Linked DNA regions of Homo sapiens. The protein of the gene in region 1 purifies or fractionates together with the protein of each later gene. This does not show direct contact. Each region holds a gene or a part of one and is shown on either strand. Other genes may lie near its edges.

The links.
Region 2: the proteins of REV1 (region 1) and POLN purify together in Homo sapiens (affinity purification with western blotting, with the first as the bait; one study listed by BioGRID). This does not show direct contact.
Region 3: the proteins of REV1 (region 1) and CTH purify together in Homo sapiens (affinity purification with western blotting; one study listed by BioGRID). This does not show direct contact.

Annotation. Positions count from the first base shown.
Region 1 is NC_000002.12:99,487,211-99,491,346, reverse strand, and holds the start of REV1 (DNA repair protein REV1), read left to right. Parts: upstream 1-1,329; 5' UTR 1,330-1,530; intron 1,531-1,935; exon of another isoform or gene 1,936-4,136. UniProt on the Homo sapiens protein: Deoxycytidyl transferase involved in DNA repair. Transfers a dCMP residue from dCTP to the 3'-end of a DNA primer in a template-dependent reaction.
Region 2 is NC_000004.12:2,071,279-2,074,776, forward strand, and holds the end of POLN (DNA polymerase nu), read right to left. Parts: intron 1,752-3,498; coding exon 1,690-1,751; intron 1,022-1,689; coding exon 836-1,021; 3' UTR 640-835; downstream 1-639. UniProt on the Homo sapiens protein: DNA polymerase with very low fidelity that catalyzes considerable misincorporation by inserting dTTP opposite a G template, and dGTP opposite a T template. Is the least accurate of the DNA polymerase A family (i.e. POLG, POLN and POLQ).
Region 3 is NC_000001.11:70,431,761-70,435,406, reverse strand, and holds part of CTH (cystathionine gamma-lyase), read right to left. Parts: intron 3,325-3,646; coding exon 3,172-3,324; intron 1,580-3,171; coding exon 1,458-1,579; intron 283-1,457; coding exon 230-282; intron 1-229. UniProt on the Homo sapiens protein: Catalyzes the last step in the trans-sulfuration pathway from L-methionine to L-cysteine in a pyridoxal-5'-phosphate (PLP)-dependent manner, which consists on cleaving the L,L-cystathionine molecule into L-cysteine, ammonia and 2-oxobutanoate.

The DNA.
Region 1 (4,136 bases):
CGCCATTGCACTCCAGCCTGGGCAAAAGAGCAAAACTTCGTCTCAAAAGAAAAGAAAAGAAAAGAAAGCAATTACGCAATTTGTTTTAAATTATGACGTCTTTGAAAAGTATGCAATCTAAATTCGTTGGATTAGCGACGAGAATACTGAAGTTGAAGTGCATTTATAGAAGTCTATAAAATGGCAAAAAACTGAAAGGGAAAGAAATGAGCTATTTGAGTATTCTCTGTGTTGCTAGTAAACAAGTTCCAACTCTGCAAATCAGTTTTCAAAAGAATACTGATTGTTTCCTAAGTACCTGCAAACTCTGAAGCATTTTAGGCAAGGGAATGAGTGGGAAAAAAGTATCTTCATGTTTGTGCATTACAACAATAAAGACTATTATGTAACAATGTGGAGTCTTCAAAGCGACCCTGCCAAGAGGGAGAAAGTGGTCCTTATGGACGGATTGTTTTCTGCTAGAAGGCCCTCAATTAGAATTGTACTTACGCATACATAATATAGGATATTATTTTTATATTCATAGAAAACTGCTTTCTCGGGTAACTCCAGCGCTGTACATGGGATGGGATACCGGCCCTCCGTTTACAAATACTCAGGCGCAATGCTGCCCGGGCACTCAAAGGACAGAAGATAGTGTCTGTGCCCTGCGGGAGCAGGCCACGAATCCCGAAAACGCCGTGGCGCAGTGCTCCTTCCCGCGAACCTGAGTGGGCCGTGGTTCTCGGTTGCTCTGGACATAGGAAAATGTCAGTTCATGTGTGTCCCTTTCTCCACTAGATGTCACTGTAAATCAATTGCTTAAGGAGGGAACCCGGGCGTCTGGCGCATCTTCACACAGTACCGGGGTTTGAAGCCCGGTCAGTGTCTGCACTTGTGTCCTTCCCCACTGGGGAGCCCCAAGGCGGGGCAGGCGCGGGGACTCGCTGTGCACGGAGCGGCGCGCTGTCCGAATGGCAACCGAAGAGCCGCGACCCGGTCAACGAAGCGCGGGGGTGACCGGAGCAGGACGGGCGGGCAGGCGGCGCAGTGCGTGGGCGGGCCCGCGCTGCGCTCCCCTCCGCCCAGCTAGCGAGACGGTCACGTGCCGCCCAGGCGCTGCCCCTTGCGGGCGGCTGCAGAACAACAGGGCGGGGCCGGGGAGGGGAGGAACACGGAGGCCGACGCCGGGCGCCGCGGTGCTACGCCCGAGGCTGGGGTCGCCCCGGGCCGGGGGGAGCAGAGCGCGTGCGCCGCGCGGCTGTGAGCGCGAGCGGGGCCGGGGAGCGCGCGCGGAACGCTAGGGGGCGTGGCTGCGGCGCGCGCGCTAACCGGAGGGGGAGGGGCGGAGAGCCACCGCGGAGCGCGCGCGGGGTTGGTTGCCGCGAGCGTGGGGGAGCGTGGACCGCGGCGCTGCTCAGCGGTGGGGCTGCCTTCCCCCGGCCCTCCTCCCTGGTCCCTGGCGAGGGCACTGGCGGCGGCGGGGCCGGGGTCCGCAAGGCCGGAGAAGGCCGCCGGGCCCGGGCATGGTGGTCTGGGGCAACGCGGAAGGTGAGCGACCCCCGGGCCGGCGGCGGGGTGGGGGAGGGGCGGGATCGGACACGCGTCGCCCGGAGGCGCCGCAGACCCGCCCGGCAGCGGCCAGAGCGCGGTCGGCCTGAGGTGGCGCGGGGGAGGGGTGCGTCGCCCCGGCCCCGGCCCGCGGCCGTCCTGTCGCGGCCTGGGCTGTCCACGGCGCCTTCCCCTGACGCTCGCAGCCGCCGGGTTATGTAATGTGTGACCTCCCCTCCCCTTCCCTTCCGTCATGGCGCGGCCGGCCCCGCGCCGCCGCCAGCCCCATGGGCCGCCCCGCGCCGACCCCTGGCGCAGCGGCCCTTCCCTCCGCGCCCGGCCGCATCCCGCCGGCCCGGTCAGACCGCGCCGCAAACTCCTTCCTCCTGCGCCGGCGCCTCGGCCGGCCATTCAGTTCCGCGCCATTCATTCACGCGCGCGTTCGGGCGTTCGTTCCACAAGCGTTTGTAGAATGTCGACCCGGTCGAGCCGCCGCTCCCACCCGCACTCCAGCCACAGCGTTTTTCCGCACCCCGCCTTCGACGTCCCCGGTGCATCCCAGAACCGGTCGGAATGTCCGAAGGCGGTTGTTGCTCCCTTGTTTTTCCTTGCTGCTTGTCCGTTCGCTAAATACGCTGGGCGCCGTTCCCCAACTGTCCTTCCGAGAGCCCCTTGCCCACTTCTGTACTGTTACAGTGACGCCGCTCTGGGCGCACCGAGCCGCGCTGTGTTTCGCTGCTCTTCCTACCTATTCTCAGTTTGTAAAGAAATAATCTCACATAACACTCCTTAATGTACTCCTCCGTAAGATAAATTGCAGATAATATACGTCTGCTAATTCTCTTTATCTCCACGTCTTCTCACGCCATGTACTAAGTAGAAATGGTTTCATTTAGGTGAAAATAATGCAGACTAGCACATAGCACAACAAGGGCTTGTAACTATTAAGGACTTTATGTAACAGTCTGTAATTCTGTGTATCTGTCTGGTCTTTCCGGACTTGGCACTTTAGTCTCCGAGAATAAGCCATTTCCTGTTTAGGTAGGGTAGGACCAACCATAACCTTGGTTCTTTCTATGGAGTTCTGTATGTAGCAAATCAGCCTGTGGGAACCATCTATCTGTCCACCAACCTTTCACACATATTCTTGGGTTTGCCCGTGCAGGGACCAGTGCTGCGTATTGTTCCCTGCCTTCCTGTACTGGACACTTAAGAGCTCACCTAAAGTTCCTCTTCCAGGAATCATTCTCCAGTATACAAGGCTCTCTTCCATTCAATTCTTAGGCTATTTGCGCCTTTTCCTGTGTTGCGTTTATCTTTTTAGCCCTGTCTTCTCTTACTGTGTAGGACCTTTTGAGGGTAGAGTCTGTACCAAACTCCTATCTTTTGTTGTAGAACCTTAACCGCTATTTTACGGTAAACCGTACATATTTAATTTTTTTTGTAAAGATGGGAATTGCTCTTTTAAAATTAATTTCTATGAGGTCTCAAGTAGAACATAATTTTTAAAAAATAATGTGCTTGAATATATAAGATCACTACATTTCCAACTTCCCACTCGCAACTTCAAAACTCTGATTCTACATAAGAGCATTAAGGAAACGTTGTCCTCACCAGCAACAAACTGGTCATTATTCATAAGAAGTTGCAGTGACTACATATAATATATATTTGAAAGCACTTTCTTTGATAGCTGCTGTAGTGGAAAGACAGGAAGTTCACAGTTACATGGAGGTTAGATTTCTGGCCCTACAAATTGTTAGCTGGTGACTGGACAAGTTAAGTTACTAGTATCTCTGATTTTTTCTCGTTTGTAGAATGAAGATACCATTTCCCACCTTGGGTAGCTGAGGATTAAATCAGTTCTTAAACGTGAGACATCTAGTGACACCATGGTACTCAGGAGGTGCTCAGTAAATACATATTCCCTTTGGTATACCTGTTTATTGCAGTTCACAATCTAGAATGAGCCAGGATGTGCTAGAGACAAAGCGTGAGAGGAAAGGTAATCAGAAGAGGTGACAGGTACCTCTCGTCTCCAAATAAATGAACAAGTCCTACACTAAAGAGCATTGTGGGTCTTTCTGCTTTTCAAGAATGTATGGGTGTGTATATGTGGCGTATTACTAATCATAGAGTATATTAAACAGAACATTTAAAAATGAAAAGTTTTTTTTTACTATAATAGCACCAACTGAAGCGTTAACATGGACATTAAAAAATAATCTTATTTTTTTCCAAAGGCAAGTCAGGAGACGAGACGGGAAAAGGGATATTAAAAAGGCTCTTTAGAGGCAATTAGGTTGCAGGCTCTTCTGTTAGCATCTACTTATAAACAGTACATGAATCCTAGTCTAAGTTCCATTATCTCTTGGTTGGAGTGTTTCCATAGTGCCTTTACTGGTTTATTTCTCTTGCTCCCTGACTGTTCCCTAGGGATTCACCTTGACAACCAGAGGGATCTTTTTAAAAATGTAAATCAGATTGTCACTTTCTTGCTTAGTGTCCTCTAAAAGCATCCTGTGAACCACTTACATTTGAATCTTAGTCGCCATCAGGGCATAGCATGATTTGGCAGCTGCCAGCTTCTAACGTTACCTCTTACT
Region 2 (3,498 bases), on another chromosome or scaffold:
GCCACTGTGCATGAGGGAAGGCAGAGGGGCACGTGGGACGGGAAGAGTCTGGAGGAGCTGCTTGGAGCACTGGCTGTCTCAGGAGCCAGCCTGTTTGCAGCCACTGGTCACTAGCCTGCAGGAGGCTCATGGGAGAGACCTTGTGGCCTGAGAGCATGTGACCCCAGACGCCCGCGGGTCCTCGGTGGCCCCTAGGCTGCATCCATGGGGGAGGCCTGCAGTGGGTGGCCAGGTCTTCTCATAGAGGGGCTCCTCTGGTCCTCCTGACACATCAGTCGGGAACACAAGCTCTAGGGGCCTCAGTGCCTGCGGGGAGGCTGTGTTCTCTCCATCTCAGTACAGGGCTGCACGCTGGGCTGGCCTGGGAGGACGGTGCACGCCCTGGGCCATGGCTTCCTAAAGCGAAGGGAGCCAGCAGGGGGTGACACCATAGGGCGTCAGAGCTGGTGGCTTCTTGGACACCTGCCGGGGGGAGCAGCTGCTGAGCCACGAGGCAGCCCCCTCCCCTGGAATCCATGGGAGAGGGAGCTGGGAGTGCCTACCCAGTCTGGAGTGTCTGGCCCAGACCCAGCCTGGGTCACTCCCAACTGGGGGCACTCAGCCCTGCCCCGGCCAAGTGGCTGGGGGTGGTGGACGCGGCACTTCCCACTCACAGGAAGAATTCACTCAGACAAGGATGAGGAGGGCTTTGCACAGGCATTTACTCCAGGGGATGGCGGGCCACCCCAGCCCCAAAGGGTTAATGCGTCCTGGGGCGTACAGAGCTGGTGACCTTGGGGAAGGCCACACAATGGACTGCTGGAAACCAGTTCTCTCCTCCCACTGTTGCCTGGGGCTACAGACAAAATGAAGGCGAAAAATGCAGGGGTGGGGGCTGGGTGCTGGCAGGGGACCCAGGGGCAGCCAGGCTGTTGCTGGGAGACTCAGTGCGACATGGGCCTGGCGGAGGGCCCCAGGCCTCCTGCAGTGGCACCAGGTGTCCCCATGAGCGGCCGGCACTCAGGCTCACCTTGAGGGGTACCTGCAGGTGGCAGCCAGAGGTGAGCCCCACGCCTGGGCCAGCCACCCCCAGCCACCTCCCAGACCCCAAGCAGGGGGACAGGGCCTACAGCACACAGGTGCACACATCCAGATACATGATCAGACAGCCACACGCACACATGTGCATACACGTGCACACTCACCACACTCGCCCAGCAACAGGCTTATGCCACATCCACCTCCCAGTCACGACACCTCGATCTTGGCGGAGGTTCCCCCACCTGCCAGGGCCTCTGTGCCAGTGGGTAGGCTGCGGCCGGCAGACAAGGTGCCCTTGGATGGGTGGGTGTGTCCTGGGGCATCCTGTGCTTGCCCCTCAGGGTCCTGCCCCCGGGAGGATTGGTGGCTCCTAGAGGCCAGGAGAGCCCTCCCGGGGGTCCCTGACCTTGAGTGGACCAAGCCTTCACAGCTCTTGACAGGGAGGGAGGGGTCCAGCCCCGGCTGCCGTCCCTGTTCACTGAAGTGAGCAGAGTCGGGTGGGGCTTCCCGGGCTTCAGGGACGGTCCAGCCTCCACGGCTGTGCCTGCTGTGGAGTGGCCATCTCGGGGCTGGGGCTGCACCCTTTGGCCTGGCTCTTTTGCCCTGGGGGTGCTGGCCTCCCCTCACCCTGGGCTCCGGAAGACCGGGCAGGCTTAAGTGTCCCCTCACCTGAAGCTGCAGCTCCAATGCCTGCACCTGTTCCAAGGACTCCATGGTCCTCCTGACGAGAGCTAGAGTGCGGAAGAGAGAGGAGGCCCTGCTGGTCTCTTGGCCTTGGGGCCTGGGAGCCGAAGATAAGAGAACTTTCAGGCCCGAGTCCTGCCCCGGCCCCTGAGCCCCCTTGTTTCCTGTGTCCACTCGGTCACCTGAACCAGCTGTGGGACCTTAATGCCCACAAGGAGCCCCTGAGTGCCCAGCCCCTGAGGCTGAGTCCAGCTCCCCCGGCCCCATCCACAGTCCAGGATGCCTCTCGCAGGCCCCTTGGCCCTCGCTGCAGCCCCTCCTCCTGGCCTGGCCCACCACACTGCACTGGCCCTCACCCCTACCCCTCCGGCTCAGCTCACCCCAGCTGGGGGCCATGGGGTGGGGCAGGCGTCATGCCAGCTCTGTTCCAGAGCCACTGGGGCTGGGAGGATGGGGGAGGCACAGGGAGCCCCCACCAGCCAGAGCCACCAGGCACACAAGAACCCCCCATCCCCACTACTGCCCGGTGAAGTTTGAGGCAACAGTGGCTTTGTGCCACAGGCAGGCTGACCCCGTTGTTGGGGCGTGGATCACCATGCAGCAGTGGGGCTCAGAGCCCTACGAAAGGGAAGGCCTGGGCAGGGGCCAGAGGTGGGACCCGCAAGCTCAGGCTTTCTCAGGGCTTGCTCTGAAACCTGGAGCCCCTGGATAAACATTCGTTCAGTCCTTTTGTGCTGTGTGACACTGCAATGCAAAGATGGCGGCAGGAGCCCCAAGCCGTGGTGGGCGCCACCTCACTTTCCAGCCCTGCTGGCCCCAGCAGAGCGAGGGTCTCCCTGGGGACCTGTCCCTGGTGTGTCCTGAGCAGGGCCAGCGGCCACCCAAGCTCTGTGGCCCTCAATGTCTTCTGTGCAGGAGCCGGTCACCGTCTGCAGGGAGCTGTCGGCCAGCAGGTGGGCACACGGCCCATGTGCATGGTGGGGAGCCCTGCAGAAGGACCTGGGCCCCCCTGGGGACCTTCTTATGGGGGCGAGGCTGGAGAGCCGGCCCAGGCCAAGCTGGACCATTGGCTCCTCATGCTGGCTGGGGCTACCCTGAGTATGCAGAGAACTGGTCCCTCTTCTGTGCCTGGTGGGGTGGTGCTGTTGACTGAGCGGGTGATCCCAAGCAACTGCTGCTCAGAGAGGGGCAGCAAGCGTGGGGCTGAGCTGGCACTCAGCTGGAGCGCTCCCTGTGGGGCCCTCGGGAGGGCAGGCAGGGCAGAGATGCTGGGCGCTACACACCGCCTGGGAGATATGACCTGACCCCCAGCCCTTCAGGGATGGTGCAGGCCCCGCCCGACCCCTGGTTCCCCAGGCCCTGCAGTCCCTGGCCCCGAGTGCTCCTGAGAGAGCAGAGCACAGGCTGCAGCCTGCCTCAGGAGCTGCCAGGCCAGCTGGAGGAAGCTGCTCCCGGGAACAAGGCCGTTTGGGAACGTTTTCTTTCCTTTTTTAACCTACAGCTGAGCACACGTTATACTTGTTAAATGGTCACGTAAGGTGGGTGTGTTTTCAAATGAGTGGCTGGACATACTTTTCAAGTGGCAGAGCCCTGCTTTAGGATGGAGTGGTCTGGGTGGGCCCCAGGGATGGGAGCCTCACACCCCTAAGGGTAAGGCCTGGAGAGGGTGGGGCTAGGAGGGCATGGCGACCACCACTCGAGAGTTGGTGCCTGAAGCTTCCAGCCCTGACGCCCCCGTGCCTCTTCTCCCAACACGTGAAGCTGCCCCGGCTGTTTACAGACCTGGCCTGGAGA
Region 3 (3,646 bases), on another chromosome or scaffold:
GAGCAGGGAAGGAAGCAACATTTGGGAGGACACCGCTCACTAACAAGAAGCCCTCCATGAGATTTTATCAGGGTCTCCATCTTGACAGGGTTAGAGTCCATTCTGATTAATGTCCTGCTATTCTTATTGTTAAATATCTTGAATTATCCCTGACCTTATCATATTTCTTTCCCAATCATTAAAGCTGACATCAAATTTAAAATACTGAGAAAAACAGAACTATACTTACGGAAGCTCAGCAAGGCTTTCGAATCCTCCCAAGCTCTCGGCCAGAGTAAATAGCTATAGCAAAGAAAACATGAATTTAGATTTTCTAGTAAAATAAAAATACTAAAATCTAAAAATAAATGTTTTTAGGCCAGGCACAGTGGCTCATGCCTGTAATCCCAGCACTTTGGGAGGCCAAGTCAGGCGGATCACCGAGGTCAGGAGTTCGAGACCAGCCTGGCCAACTAGTGAAACCCCATCTCTACTAAAAATACAAAAATTAGCTGAGCATGGTGGCACGCACCTGTAATCCCAGCTACCTGGAAGGCTGAAGCAGGAGTATCACTTCAACCCAGGAGGTGGAGGTTGCAGTGAGCCGAGATCATGCCACTGAACTCCAGTCTGGGCAAAAGAGTGAAACTCTGCCTAAAAAAAAAAAAAAAAAAAAAAAAATTATTGCATTTGAGACTTTGCTCTGTGGTTACCACTTAAATAAAAAAATCTCTAAATGCTTCCCAAGTTATACATACTTCCTTGTTAATATATATCACTTATGAAATACATCCTTTAAATCCCTGCTGGAATAGGGGAAAAAAAAAAAACCACTGTTTTTATGTTGAGTGTGATAGTGTCATAAAACTTTACAAATGTTTTAAAAGTTACTTTGGTAAATGTATTAAATTAAGGTGACACCAGGAACACTTTGACTAATCTGGCAGCTTTCTGTTAATCTATTCTGTAGTATATAAACTGCATGAGCTCAAGGTTAAGCCCAGTGTATGGAGTTGGACAGGCCTCTTGCTCAAGGCCCCTGAGAGCCTCCTCCTGGCTTTTTGAAAATTAGACAAAGGCCTCACCCCAGTCAGATGCAGCTTAGGAGGCACAGGGTTTGGAAAGCCATTCACAGGATGGATTTTAGAACAGCCCTTGTGCAGTGCACTAACTGCACACTACTTCGAGGTTTTACCTATTTCATCTGAAAAAAGGGGTTCACTTTTAAATAAATGCATTAGAATACTCTGTGTCTCCAAACTGATTGTAGTATGTGGAGAGTTAAGTAAGTGAACATATTTAGATGTCTGCTACATTGTTGTTTAAGTTGTTTTCAACCCAATGCATTTCATGATAAAGAGGTTTATGAGTGTAACCTGCAGATACAAAAACATTATCTGGCTTGAGTAGAAGTGAGAGATAGTGAACTGCTGTAAGGCCTTACCTCCTACAATTTTAAACCTATTTTGTAAGTTTACCTTTAGGTTCTTGAGGAAAATCTCAGCATGCTGAAGAGTGCCCTTAATATAAAAGGTGACCATCCCTGTACAACCTGTACACTGACGCTTCACCAACTCATGCTGTGGATGAGAGGGCAGCCCTGTAATCATAAGGTATCATAAGTCTTATTTTAGAATTAAACATGTAATTTTTGGGGGGGGAGGGTGGTATTTTTCACTGTCTACTTAACTGCAAATAAGCCTAAGACGAGGATTATGCCATGCTCACATCTGACTACTTGCTTGGGCCCCTATCTCTCCAGCTTCATGTTGCCTCATCTTTTCTACCCTCTTCAGCTTTCTTTATGCCAGCACCACTGCACTCCCTTTCATCTCAGGACCTTTGCACATGCTGTCCCTTCAACCTGGACTTCCCTTGTTAATTATATCCTGTAATTTCTTGCTTAGTATCTGTCTTAGCCACCAGAGTTGCTCCATGAGGGCAAATCCATTTCTTTTGTTACTAATTGGATCCCAGTTCCTAGTGCAAAGCCTGGCTCATAGCTGGCGTTTAATAAAAATTTCTTGAATAAATCTCCAATACCTTGTCTATGCCCTTTTAACCAATGCTGCCCATTCTTCATGGCATAGCTCAAAACTCTTCTCTCTCCCTCCATCCAAAATATATATCAATCAACAGCTCTTTACCTAAAGTACCTTTAGGGCATTTAGTTTCATATGTATTTCGCTTTGGTTTCTCTAAATTCCTTGTGAATTTCCTAGTGAAATTCCAGTCTTAATTTTTCTATATATTCTAGATGCTAGAACCCTCAAAAGGATCTAAAAAGAAAAGAACTACTTAGGACCACCACAGCTTAAAAGACTGGTAAAAATAAATTCAAAAAGTAAGATGTAAGTCAGCCAACTCCACAGAAGACTTTCTAGATGCTGGAAGAGGTGAAGGAATAAAAATACAGGAGAGAAATACAGGAGAGAACCTCAGGGGGCTGGGCGTAGTGGCTCACGCCTGTAATCCCAGCACTTTGAGAGGCCAAGGCAGGCAGATCACCTGAGGTCAGGAGTTCGAGACCAGACTGGCCAACATGGTGAAACCCCGTCTTTACTAAAAATACAAAAAATAGCTGGGCGTGGTGGCGGGCACCTGTAATCCCAGCTACTCGGGAGGCTGAGGCAAGAGAATCACTTGAACCCGGGAGGCAGAGGTTGCAGTGAGCTGAAATTGCATCATTGCACTCCAGCCTGGGCAAGAGTGAAACTCCGTCTCAAAAAAAAAAAAAAAAAAAAAGAGAGAGAGAGAACCTCAGGGGAATTTTAGCACCTAATATCAAGTCTCAACTGGGACAAACCTCTATCAGATTAAAGTGACAGCTAATGCTGAATAGCAGACAGACAAGATTATAAGCAAATCAACTGAAAAGTCTAATGTTAAAATCTTTGAATAGGTATACACAAGCCTTCAAATCACAGACCACCACAGGAACAACTAATGCATAAAACTGATTTTCTACTATCCAAGCATCCACTAAACTAGAGGCAATACAACAGTAGAGACCAGGTCTATCTTCTTTCCACCTGACCCACCACAGAGCCTGACACATGGCAGTGCTCAATAATAAATGAACAAAAACAATACGTGAAAGCACCTAACTTACAAATAAATGTTACATAAACACGATGCTCAGGATAACTGCTGAAATCCTAGTAGATCTGCTTAGAAATCAAATTAACATACCAGGATAAATAACCTTTTCTACCCAAGGATTAGATTCCAGGAACTGGGCAACTGCCATTCCGTTTTTGAAATGCTTTTCCATTCGGACATGTAGAGTCTTCAGACCTCGATTGCAGAGGTAACAATCAATAGGAGATGGAACTGCTCCAAGAGCTGCAAAATGAACACATCCTGGATAAGTTTGAAGGCAGGGTATGGCCAAGAAATTATCTGGCTTCTCTTTTCCATTACAGTGACTCTCAGAAGCTAGGTGTAAAGCTCAATGTTTGAGTTCTAGGAGGAAAATAATATATCAAATCAGAAGCAGAAGAACAAAGCATAGAATATGCTTAGAGAAATTTACTTTAAAATGAGGGGAAGCAAATATGCTGAAAACTAAGTAAAAGCACAATGATATAAACTTCTCAAATATGAAGATAAGTAGTCCTTTCTATGATTTTAATAAAATCATAAATTGTTCATAGCCTAACCTTGT